2 linked regions of the Homo sapiens genome follow. The main gene of each other region encodes a partner of the protein of the gene in region 2 in a complex. Each region holds a gene or a part of one and is shown on either strand. Other genes may lie near its edges. A codon is read from its position in the direction of its gene.

The links.
Region 1: the proteins of SCML2 (region 2) and H2AJ are in contact, whole or in part, in a crystal structure (PDB 4EDU), measured with the Homo sapiens proteins. Residues at the interface, in NP_006080.1 of Homo sapiens: Asp182, Asn185, Tyr187, Leu188, Cys190, Phe206, Trp209, Phe213, Pro239, Pro240, Gly241; in NP_808760.1 of Homo sapiens: Leu35 (codon at 1,144), Arg36 (codon at 1,141), Lys37 (codon at 1,138), Gly38 (codon at 1,135).

The regions. Positions count from the first base shown.
Region 1 is NC_000012.12:14,770,218-14,775,716, reverse strand, and holds H2AJ (histone H2A.J), read right to left. Parts: upstream 1,313-5,499; 5' UTR 1,247-1,312; coding exon 857-1,246; 3' UTR 693-856; downstream 1-692. Other genes in the region: H4C16 (histone H4), read left to right, coding at 4,633-4,944. UniProt on the Homo sapiens protein: Core component of nucleosome. Nucleosomes wrap and compact DNA into chromatin, limiting DNA accessibility to the cellular machineries which require DNA as a template.
Region 2 is NC_000023.11:18,253,543-18,260,792, forward strand, and holds part of SCML2 (sex comb on midleg-like protein 2), read right to left. Parts: intron 6,750-7,250; coding exon 6,629-6,749; intron 4,706-6,628; coding exon 4,502-4,705; intron 3,489-4,501; coding exon 3,306-3,488; intron 1-3,305. UniProt on the Homo sapiens protein: Putative Polycomb group (PcG) protein. PcG proteins act by forming multiprotein complexes, which are required to maintain the transcriptionally repressive state of homeotic genes throughout development.

The sequences.
Region 1 (5,499 bases), on a different chromosome or scaffold from region 2:
TATGATATGATGAAGACAGGATCATTATGAAGCTAGAAACTTGACAACATCACTTTAAAAGCTCAAGCATATGTAACCCACGACTAAAGGCGCTGCAATGTTATGCAATATGACTGTCAGGGGAACGAATTTCCAACCTCATGACTCACTTATTGAACGTTTCCTTCATTAAAAAAAAAATATGAACATAAAAGTGCTATATAAAGATATCTGATATCCAAAGCATGAAAGCACAGCAGCTACTAGGCTAGGAAGAATCTCAAGTTGACATCGTGCCATCAGAGCCACCCTTCCAAGACGGAAAGTTACTCCACTTTTTGAAAAATATGGCCGCAGACACTTCCTGCCCCGAGCTCAGCTCGATCCGACGGTATCTTCCCAGAACTTGGTCCTGAGTGCTCACAAACTGGCAGGAGAGCGAAGGCTCTGTGAAAGGGAAGTAAAAATAATTCCGAAGGAGGCCTCACCGCACCGACTCTGCCTCCCCTTTGCCCTACTGACAGCGAGGTGGCTTCCACCCTGCCCACCTCCAGGCCACCCTCCCCTGACGCCTCGAGGGTGACCTGCGGACTAAAGCCGTCCAGAGTGGCTCAAGCCCACCCACCAGTGCCTGCTCCAGGGGTTTCCCGGTCGCCCCCCTCCCCTGGGGCCATCCGACATGTCCCCGCGACTACACAGCTCTCTCGACCAAACGATTTTCACCAACTTTATTGGCTCCCGCCGGGACCCTCGCCGCCCACCTCCCCGCTAGATGTCACCGGCCCTCCATGACATCCAGCACATTCAAAAGCATTGCGGGACGACCATGAAAAGGGCCTTTGCTGGGGGAGCCAGCTCCCTGAGGGCGGCGTCAGGGTCATTTGCTCTTCGTCTTCTGACTCTCCGTCTTCTTGGGCAGCAGCACGGCCTGGATGTTGGGCAGGACGCCGCCCTGAGCGATGGTCACTTTGCCCAGCAGCTTGTTTAACTCCTCGTCGTTGCGGATGGCGAGCTGCAGGTGGCGGGGAATTATCCTGGTCTTCTTGTTGTCACGCGCGGCGTTGCCAGCCAGCTCCAGGATCTCCGCCGTAAGGTACTCCAACACCGCCGCCAGGTACACCGGCGCCCCGGCGCCCACTCGCTCCGCGTAGTTCCCTTTGCGCAGCAGTCTGTGCACTCGGCCCACCGGGAACTGCAGGCCCGCGCGGGAGGAGCGGGATTTGGCCTTTGCTCGCACTTTGCCGCCCTGTTTCCCGCGACCGGACATGATCACCTCTCGCCTACAACTCCAGAGACGGAGACAAACCGCTCTCGGCGTCCGGTACCGGAATGCAACGTACCGCACCCGAACTGCCTCTACAAACTCTTTACGGCCGCGCGGCAGCCCCTTTCCATTGGCTCTGGTGACCAATGACAGGCAGGCTCCGCTCCCAACTAGCGCTCTGGAAGAGAGACCGCCTCCTCCAGCTCTCTCCAATCAATAGAGCAATCTCCGAATCCTCATTTACATAGCCGCTCACATAAATAACGAGGCCAGCCGGCTCAGTCTTTGGGGACCCAGATGAATTTAGCGGTTACGGGTTTTCCACGACCACGCTCGCTTCCAAGCACATAAACTCGTAGGAAATAAGAAAACATGGTTGGAAACAGAAAACAATCCAGAAGAAGAGCTACAGGGGTTGTCCGTAGACGTTGCTATGCTAAGTGGATGTTCTCATATAATACACCGTACTACTCAGGTAGGTTTCTGTCTCCGCAGCCCGTGCTGCTTAGGCGAAACAACAGCCTGTCCGCGGAATTCTGCCTGCCCAGGACAGGGTCCGTGGACTGTTTCTTATACAAGCGCCTTGCCTCCAGCTAGCTACCCAACAGTGTAGAGACCACCCTGGTCTCCCCGCAGGGTCCTGCGGCTCACAGCCAGCCAATCGTTCACTTTTGAGTCTGAAGCTAGAGTGATGACCAGACGTGAATGCTTCCTGTGCTGACGGGAGGAACAAGCTCGCCTAGCCAAAATATCTTTTGTCTTTGAGGCTATGGGCCTGCAAAGAGCCACTAGGTTTTATTGGAGAGGCCAAAGTCTTGGCCTTGGCTTGCTCCCCGCAAGCCAGGGCGCCACAGATCAGCGGATCGGGTCCTCTGCGAAGACGTGGAGGTCCCCCGGGTCTCTTTGTAAATGAGTCCAGAGACTAAAGTCAGAATGGCAGCTTATTCTTATATACCTGAATTGTGGACCCATGCTTTTTGAAACAAAAAGAGTGTTTCAAGTGTTTTGTTTTAATTAAAAATTACTTTCTCCTAATTCATCGAGGTCATTTCATTTTTACCTGAACATTTTCAGTAACACAGTTAACACCGATACGTGATGTAATGTTGAACGCTTGCTTTTTAAAATAAACATTTTATGTGGATTCATTTACATTTAAAGTAAAGCAAATTTACCTTCTCACTATCCGAATAAAGATTTGACTTCATTGAAATAACATTTTCAAATATTTATGTATATGTCATTACTGCCTAGAACAATGATGAACCCATACTGGGGACTCAATAAATGTCTTCAGAGCTATTGTCATGGTTTAGGCGGTCTTTCCGGAGCCAGTCTGCCTCAGCCTAAATCCTGGCTTTACCACTGAGCAGTGACCTTTGATAAGTTATTTGACTCCTCTACCTGTATCAAAGTGTTTTGAAAATTAAATACGTTAGTAAGCATCCAATAACTCTTAGATATACCAAATAAATGGGCATACAAATCTCTGATGCAGTTTTTAACGAGATGTTCCTGGAATGAGTTCTGTAAACTAGCTTAAATTTTTGCCTGTATCTTGGGGAATTTTCAAGAGTTTTTAAAAGTATTACTATTTTAGACACGATTTTTTTTCTTTTATTCCAATAAGCAAGAGATTTCTAATTTGAAAATGTTCTAGTCTTGATTTCTTAGAAAGCTTAACTATAAGTAAGTCAACCGATTTTACCATTACAATAATTTTTTTTTTTTTTTTTTGAGACGGAGTCTCGCTCTGTCGCCCAGGCTGGAGTGCAGTGGCGCGATCTCGGCTCACTGCAAGCTCCGTCTCCCGGGTTCACGCCATTCTCCTGCCTCAGCCTCCCGAGTAGCTGGGACTACAGGCGCCCGCCACCACGCCCGGCTAATTTTTATGTATTTTTAGTAGAGATGGGGTTTCACCATGTTAGTCAGGATGGTCTCGATCTCCTGACCTCGTAATCCGCCCTCCTCGGCCTCCCAGAGCGCTGGGATTACAGGCGTGAGCCACCGCGCCCGGCCCCATTACAATAATTCTTATCTCTTCAAGATCTGATAGACTTTTCCTCTTCCCTCTGAGTCAAATATTAAAATCATGAGTGAAGTTCGACCATTCAGGACTTTTTCCAGCCATTCAAGACAGTGTTCCAACTCTTTTATCTTTAACAAAAAGTAAAAGAAAAATAAATACCTTTTGGGTTATGAAGATGGGCATGGATTGAAACAAATGTAAACTATAGGCATTTATAAATATAACAAAATTTTACCATAAAGTCTTCCTGCTGTAAAGGCTTATCTTCAAGACCAGGGACAAAGAAGCCCCACTTACTAAAATTCATTGCTCAGAATCCTAATTAACTACCTGGGAAAGACTTATGACTCATCCTCTAAATAACAGCTGCTTTTTAACACAGTAAAACCTTTAGAGAAGACAGGGTCCTGACACCTTTGAAGAGCGGTGACACCTTACAGAAACTTTCGTTTTTGTTCAGGGATTCTCTTGAGAAAGGAAGGGATTCAGAACCTCCTGAGGGGATTTGCAGTAGAAATCATTATTCCAAGTCATGATTGTGGCATCCATTGTTTTACAAGAACTTTGAATTTTTAAGTGGAAAATGTGAGATGAGAACCTGAGATTTGAATGACATAAGACATTGACAATATTTCAACTAAATAACCACAGGAAGTTACTTGGTTGAAAAGCACACAGGCTCTTGCAGGGCAGGAAAACCTGCAAATTGCGCAGAAGCAGCTGAAAGGGGAATGGCGGGGGTCGGGGGGAGGTGGGGGTGGAGTGTAGGTGGGGGACGGGAAGCTGCACTTTCTTTTTTCAATTGAAAGAATTTTAATTATCTGCAGGGCCGTAAAAGAGAAAAAAGTCCTCTCCCCCTACTATGTCTTCAGAAGACCCACGTGTGAAAAATTTTAAATTTTAAGTAATTGCTTTGAAATCTCGGATGTAAAGCTTTTCAGGTTTTTATAGAGTTTCATAGTAAGTCAGGAATTCCGTTTGAAAAAACAGAAGGAGGGAGGGACAGAACAAGGAACGTGCATAGGATCTGGCCTACTTTTATTTAAGCGCTGAGAAAAGGCAATATAAATTCTTTTAGCTCATACTGTTTTAACTTTAAAACGTATCACCATGAACCTTTCTCCAAACATCAGAAAAAATTTTCCCAAAAGAGCAAACAACAAAAAAATCAGGCTGGTTTCGCTGACTGCTTCCTGGACTTAACAACTATAGCATGTCTCCAGAGGTGGGGCCTAGAGCTCCGCCCACTTTTTTGATGTTTTCAAACAGGTCCGCATCGAGAGACTATAAGCCCTGGTCTGCGACTGGCAATCACAGTGGGCAGCCCGATTTTCTGCTGAGTAGGCGCTGTGATTTCAGAATGTCTGGGCGAGGTAAAGGTGGCAAGGGGCTGGGTAAGGGAGGCGCCAAGCGCCACCGGAAGGTGCTGCGGGACAATATCCAAGGCATTACAAAGCCGGCGATTCGCCGTCTCGCCCGACGTGGGGGCGTCAAGCGCATTTCTGGTCTCATCTACGAGGAGACCCGGGGAGTCCTCAAAGTCTTCCTGGAGAACGTGATCCGTGACGCGGTGACTTACACGGAGCACGCCAAGCGCAAGACCGTCACGGCCATGGATGTGGTGTACGCGCTGAAACGCCAGGGTCGCACCCTTTATGGTTTCGGCGGTTGAGCTGTCCCCACAGCTTCTCTACAGACTCCAAAAGGCCCTTTTCAGGGCCCCCAAACTGTCACAGAAAGAGCTGTTAACACTTCCTAGATAACGGGTAAATATCAACCCTTTGATGTCGCCTTCCGGATACCGGAAATGGGATATTCGCGGCCCGAGCATCTGCTCGGGATTAGACTTGGCGGGCACGGGGAGAACTAGACCTCAAGGAGGGGGTTCCGCCTGTGCTTAGGTACGACCCTGGAGGTGCCGCGCAACGCAGTAGTGACCTCCCAAAATCCAGACACCGGATTTTGTTTAGAAGAGTGCTTGTACAAAGCCCTAGTGTTAGAACTGGTCATGGTCTTCTAAGCGGCCGAGTCGTTGGCCCATAAGCACGTATCGGATGGCTTCCATGTAAATCAGGGCTTAGGTGACTTCCTGCTGGCCTTCAGGGGTGAGCGTCACGCGTCAAGGGCGGTTCGTGCGTGTGCAGGGCTTGCTAAGTCGCAGGAAATGGGAGGTCGCAGCACGCCGCTACCTGCAAGCCCGAAAGCTGAATGCAGCTCTAGTGTGGCG
Region 2 (7,250 bases):
CTATTTAAAAAAGCAGAGAGCTGATAGGAAAGTAAACTGAGGCAACCACTTTGAAAAACTGTTTGGCAGTATCTACTAAAGCTTAATCTATGCATTTCCTGTGACCTAGCAATTCCCTCCAAGATAGATACAGGAACAGAAAGACGTGTATAGAATGTTCATGATAACACTATTTATAAGAGTACAAAACATAACACTATTTATAAGGGCACAAAACAGAAAGCACTCAAATGGATACATACCATGGTAGCATATTTATACAACAGAATATTATACAGCAATGAGAATGAATGATCTAACTATATGCAACAATACAGATGAAACTTACAAACATAATGATAGGCCAAAAAAGCTAGGCACAAGAGTAAATGCTGTATAATTCCATTTCTATAAAGTTCAAAAATAGGCAAAAGTAATATATGGTACTAGAAGTCAGGACAGTAGGTATCCTTGTGCGAAGTGAGGGGTAGTAGTGGATTAAAGGGGGTTTGACACATTAGCAGTGCTTCTAGGGTACTAGTAATAGCTACTTTTCCAACCAGTGACTGATTATACAGGCATGAAAATTAATCAAGCTACATTCCATGTATAATTTTCTCTATGTATACTATACTTCAGTAAAATGTCTTCAAAATTACTGCTAAAATATGCAAACACTAGATTTGTCAGAATCAAAGTCTCCTAAGAAGAGCACTCTATCTTAAACTATTTTTGAGTCACTTATTTTAAAAAATGTAAGAGAAATGGGATACTAGACGTGAAATCTTAGTAATAACCTCATAGCATTTATATGCAACTTCTTTAACTACAAGCTGACTTAAGAAAAACATAAGAGTTCCAACTCAAAGCCATTTTCAAATGGCTAAATTAAGCTTTCTGTGACAGAAAATTAATAACCCCTAAAATAATGTAAAATATGTGGATTATTCAGTGTATTTTTTCAAATAGTTACCTATTCTGATTATTTGATTAATCTGAAAATTCAAACATTTTGTGTTCAATTTAAAGAAGAATTACATTTTCTTTAAAATCTTTCAAAGAATGAGGCTTTGTAAATTACTGGCATTCTTAATGCTTTGTGTAAGAAATCAGGAAATTGGGCCTGGCATGGTGGCTCAGGCCTGTAATCCCAGCACTTTGGGAGGCCAAGGTGGAAGGATCACTTGAGGCCAGGAGTTTGAGACCAGCCTGGTCAACAAGGTGAAACTCCACCTCTACTAAAAATACAAAAATTAGCCAGGCGTGGTGGCAGGTACCTGCAATCCCAGCTATTCGGGAGGCTGACACAAGAGAATCACTTGAACCCAGGAGGCGGAGGTTGCAGCGAGCCGAGATGGTGTCACTACACTCCAACCTGGGTGACAGACTGAGACTCTGTGTCCAAAAAAAAAGAAATCAGGAAATTGTACTCTCAACATCTCCAACTCGTATTTTTCCCCAAATTACTCTTAGAAACAGAAAACCTATCAATACACAGACACCCCTCTTCCCACACAGGTGGCCCTTCCCTTCCTAGCCATCTTCCAAATTTCCTACCATTTTGGATGACCTCCTACCTCTCCTGAAGAAGGAAAAAAAAAGGATAATATCACATGAAAACATGAAACCTCACTCTTCCTCTTCCCCCTAGTTCTAACAGCTACCTTTTATTGCTCCTACTTCATGCCAGGCATAATGCAGGCTAAGAATTTACATATACTTTCTTTCAATTTCACAACCAAAGAGGTATCCACTTTGCAGATAAGGAAACTGAGAACTAGAGAGGCTCAGTACTTTGTCTATGGGCACATAGCTAGTTAACAGCAGGAACTGAATTAAAATGTAGGCCGGTCAGACTTTATACTCTTTCAGCAGAGATTACAAGGCCAGGATTGGAACCCAGGTCTGACAAACTCCAACACCTGTGCTCTCCATGCCACTGCTTCTCCATGTATACTTTTTGCAAGCATGTCACAGTATCATACCTTTATTTCAAAGGGACTCACTGGACAGCTACACCAGAGGGGAGAAACTGGAAAGAGGACTCCAGTTAGAAGCCTGCTTTACTAAACCAGAGAAGGGGTTAGTACAGTCTGAAGCAGGGTAGTAACAAGGAAATGGAAAAAAGGGGATGGATATGAGAGATGTCACTGAAGTAGAGGAGACAAGCTTTATGAAGAAGGGTGAGGGTAACCAGGAGGACCAGAAAAAAAAGTAGTAGCTAGAGACGTGGTACCCACGCTTCACACTTGAGTGGCACGTGAATTAGAATCCCTGGACTTAAAAAGATAGTCTGTGATGGTACTCTGTATTTCCAGAATCAGCAGCAGCTGGCCAGAAAACCATGCGGCAATAACACCTGAGAACTTCAGCTACTCTTAAAAGACCCACATACAATCCTGCCATGATCAATAGAACACAGTTAGCTTTCATGAGTCACATGAAAAAGAGACAAACCACTCCCAAAAAACAAACAGCACTTGCATAAAAGCTGAAAGAGCTTTCTTGCTTTAGGGATCAGAAGCAAGAAACCCACTTTTGGTTCTACAGGGCTATCTTACACCTACCCTTTTATTCAGGCATCGGTTTGGGGTTCTTATGGAAGAGAAGCAACCATGGTTCAAATGTCAAATTCAAGCATATCACAGGCTGGGTGTGGAGGCTCACACCTGTAAATCCCAGCACTTTGGGAGGCCAAGGCGGGAGGATCACTTAAGGTCAGGAGTTCAAGACCACCCTGGCCAACATGGCAAAACCCTGTCTCTACTAAAAATACAAAAATTAGCTGGGCATGGTGGTGGGCGCCTGTAATCCCAGCTACTCGGGAGGCTGAGACAGGAAGATCGATTGAATCTGGGAGGCGGAGGTTGCAGTGAGCCGAGATTGTGCCACTACACTTCAGCCTGGGGTGACAGAGTGAGACTCTGTCTCCAAAAACAACAACAAAACCGTATCATCATTTGTCAAACCTCAATGACAACAAAATTATCTTTATAGCCAATAGGCTCAACACGCTTTGCTAACTTCTGAGGATTATAAAAGTCAGTAACTTTAAAGCCATACTTCAGTCTAATAGAGAATGTTTAACTCTGTGAGGTAGTCAAAATGAAGCCAAACATAAGTAAGCCATGGGCTTTGATTCTGAAGTTCATTATGAATACAAGAAATTACTTTCCTATTTTGAATGAACAAAAACAACTATATGTTATACATTTCTAATTAGTTCACTGTGGCTAAAATGTTTACTTTGAGGAGAACACAAGGAAAAACAATTACACAAGATTCTCAAGTGAAACAGAAGTGTAAGAGTTTACATTTTCTCTCACCTGACTGATTTTTATCATGCTCTGCAGAGCTGTGAGTATGACCCCTGGAAGAACTAAAAGGCTGGCTACTCAAAAGGTTATCACACTGCAGACTGTGGCAGAAGTTCTCAAGAAAGCGAAGAGCAAATGATGCACTGTTCACTGGAGGGAGCTGGATGGAATGAGTTTCCCCATCAAAGGAGGCTATTGGGGGAAAAAAAAGGATGTCAGTAACCTCAGAGAGATGAGAAATACAACACTAATTAAAAAAAAAACTATCACCTTAGGAAAGGTATTATAAGTCTAATTTGTGTTCTTTGTAATTCATAAAGGAATGATCTTATATTATAAAAGCTCCTCTCAAACACAATAGCCTGTATTGGTAAAAACATCCTCATTTGAAAATACTCTTAAGTCAACAACAACAACAGAAACTCACTGATCTATGTAACACTTCCTTCTATTCCAAATATTCCATGGGTATGAATGTTGTGGTGTCTGATCATAGCCACCAACACTATCTTATTGCTTAGTGACTTCTTGAGTCACATATTTATTTAGAGCTTCTTATAGATAAAATATATTATCAGCCAAGGTACTCTGCCTATAGTGAGCTTAACACAGCATGTAAAACGAAGAATCTGTGACTTTTGTCCCAATTTACATTATTCTGACATCATTTGTCCATTTTAAAAGTAAACTTTTCAAACCAGGGCTTAAAGTCTATAAACATATAACTCCTATAAATGTTCTATTATACTAATATAATAAATATTACAGGCTAGGTGCGGTGGCTCACACCTGTAATCCCAGCATTCTGCGAGGCCAAGGTGGGCAGATCACATGAGGCCAGGAGTTCACGACTAGCCTGGGCAACATGGCAAAACCCTGTCTCTACTAAAAATACAAAAGTTAGCCAGGCATGATGGCGCATGCCTATAATCCCAGCTACTCAGGAGGCTAAGGTGGGAGAATCGCTTGAACCTGGGAGGTGGAGGCTGCAGTGAGCCAAGATCACACCACTGCACTCCAGCCTGGGTGACAGAGTGAGACCCTGTTCTAAAAAGATGAAGGAAGAAAGAAGAAAGGGCGGGGGAGGGGGAAGGGGAGGGGAAAGGGGAAGGGGAGAGGAAAGGGAAGGGGGAAGGGAAGGGGGAAGGGAAGGGGGAAGGGAAGGGGGAAGGGACTGAATTAGACAATGTATTAGATAAGTATACCAGTTATCACTTCTCCTCCACGATTATCTGGCTTCAGGTATCCAAAAACAGTTTTAGTTTCAAGGGCACAATCCACACAGGCCTGCACAATCCGGCGAAGCACCACATTCACCGGGCCCGGGCCGAAGTGGTCAGGCAGCTGCTGGATTCTCTTGGGATCCAGATGAGGGCCAAAGTTTCCATGTTTGTTTACATAGACACAGACTTGAGAAAAAATGCGTATGCATACATAACAATGAGACTGATTAAAAGAAATTTTGTGAAAACACTACATAATCAATTACTATATCCCACTATCCACTTCACTCACAGAAAACCTAAATATAGTTAATATCAATGATCATTTCTGCTACCTAAAAATATGTAAATATATTTTTACATTGATGCAAAGACACTGAACCCACAAAGAAACAATCAAAATGTTTATTCAATTTTTTAGAATCTTGTCCAAACTGATGATATAAAATCTACAGACATTTTAGGCACATCACAAAAACAATTCTTCATACATTCCCACATTATATAAAATGGCACAAAGACAGATGAATATTTTCATCTTTTAATTGTATACACAGTACAAGAATTTCCTTTCAAAACGGGTCATCTTGCTATGCTCTTTTTTGGACTGAATTTATTTTAAATCACCAATACTGCACCTCAATTATATTTTCTAAAGTAACCAAACAATTTAAGATATATATAACAAGTTATATTGATATATATTAATATTTTATTAATTTTAGGAAAATAAAAATGTTCCTTCTATATATACCAAGATTCATGGAAGAAAATTTTAAAATAAACTCTTTCCTTAGTATAATAAAAGCATATGATATAGAAGCAATTCATCTATAATCACATAAATGCCAACTTCCAATAATTTTCTTTACTGAGAATCAACAAATGCAAATCAATATACACTATAAAAACATGAGGGAAGCTGGGCGCAGTTGGTCACGCCTGTAATCCCAGCACTTTGGGAGGCCAAGGTGGGCGGATCAACTCAGGTCAAGAGTTTGAGACCAGCCTGGCCAACATAGTGAAACCCCATCTCTACTAAAAATACAAAAATTATCTGGGTGTGGTGGCACATGCCTGTAGTCCCAGATACTTGGGAGGCGAGGCAGAAGAATCACTTGAACCCGGGAGGCAGAGGTTGCATTTAGCCAAGATCACGCCACTGCACTCCAGCCTGGGTGATGAAGTGAGACTGTCTCAAAAAAAAAAAAAACAACAAAGAAACAAAACATGAGGGCACATCACTACCAAAAATAAAATAAATTGTCCCCCTAAGAAGCATGTTATTTTTAATCCATTAATTAATATTGCAAAACTTTCACACACACATAGTCTATATTTAGTATAAGAAAACTGATCAATCTCAGTTTTGCTCTGTTGAAATATACAATTCAATTTTGTGGCAACAGCCAGAGGAAGGACTGTTATCCTTCAGAAATGAAATAGCTATTAAAAATTCAACCCACGGTGCTGATGACATGGACAAATTCTACTGAACACAAGCGAAGCTAAACAAGGATTTCAATGTTTTATCTCCTTTGTGTTATATCCATTTAGCTAGTCTTTCCTGCTAATTAAAAATCAGAAATAATAAACTGAAAAAAATGAGATATGTTACAACAATCATTTTTAAAGTGACTTCTATTTTTAAAAAACTAAATTTACTTTTAGTCAGGAAAGAAAAATTAAAAGGAAAAAAAAGTCCAGGGAATAGGAGAGTGTAAGGGAGATAATTTTTAAAAGGCATTAAGAAAAGGTTTGAGGCAGCTTTGAAAATACATACCATACAAAAAGACAAATTTTGAAATGAGATAAAGGGAAAACAAGAATAGATTGGACAATGTAAATTGCATAAATCTTACTTAAATGGATAAAATACTTTAAGAGTATCTGAATTTTCAAGTGACTCATGTATTTAAAGACTTTTTCCTTAATGTAAAATGGAACAATCAGAATTTCAAAATACTTTAATATGAAAAATGCAAAGATAAATGTTTAATATTACCATCTTTTTCCCTTATTATTTTATTTCCAGGACTTCGAAGACACTGAAAATAATACAGGATAAAAGATTAGTAATTCTATACTATTTTTAAAATATGAATTTACCTGTAGACATCACTATTTTACATGGCCCAGAAGCGACATCTTTATATAACATGCCACGGTCTCTGGTCAGCGATTTTAGAGAAGCTGCAGATGTAGAACATATCACGGGCAAAGGTTTTTCCTGTTAAAAACAAAGGGAAAAAAACACAAGTATACAATACTCATTAATATATTCTTAGATAAGAAAGTCAGAAATTATAAATATCATTGGTTTATAAAATTATTAGTTATCAGAAGTCCTCAGGTTGGAAACTCCCGTGTGTGTCATGAACTGCAGAACTTTCCAAACTGAGCTTCTCAGAGGACCACAAACTGTCCAGGTAGGGGAGAAAGAGACCAAATGGCTGGGATTCCCTGTCCTACCCCTGCTCCAACTAATCACACCTTAGCCAAATTAGATTATTCCATAAAACATACTTTATTTTTTGAGGTTCCCTGTAAGACAAGTTTTTTCACATTGCTAAAGAAAAGTCTGTAAATCTCTAACCCAGAGCAATACCTCCAATAGAAAAAAAATCTCAGCAAGGCAGAGGACAGAGTTTATTTTCAGAAAGAAGTTGCTCATCTAGTTAGTCTTCGCTGTGTCTAACCCACAGTTCTCCATATTACATACAATAATTCT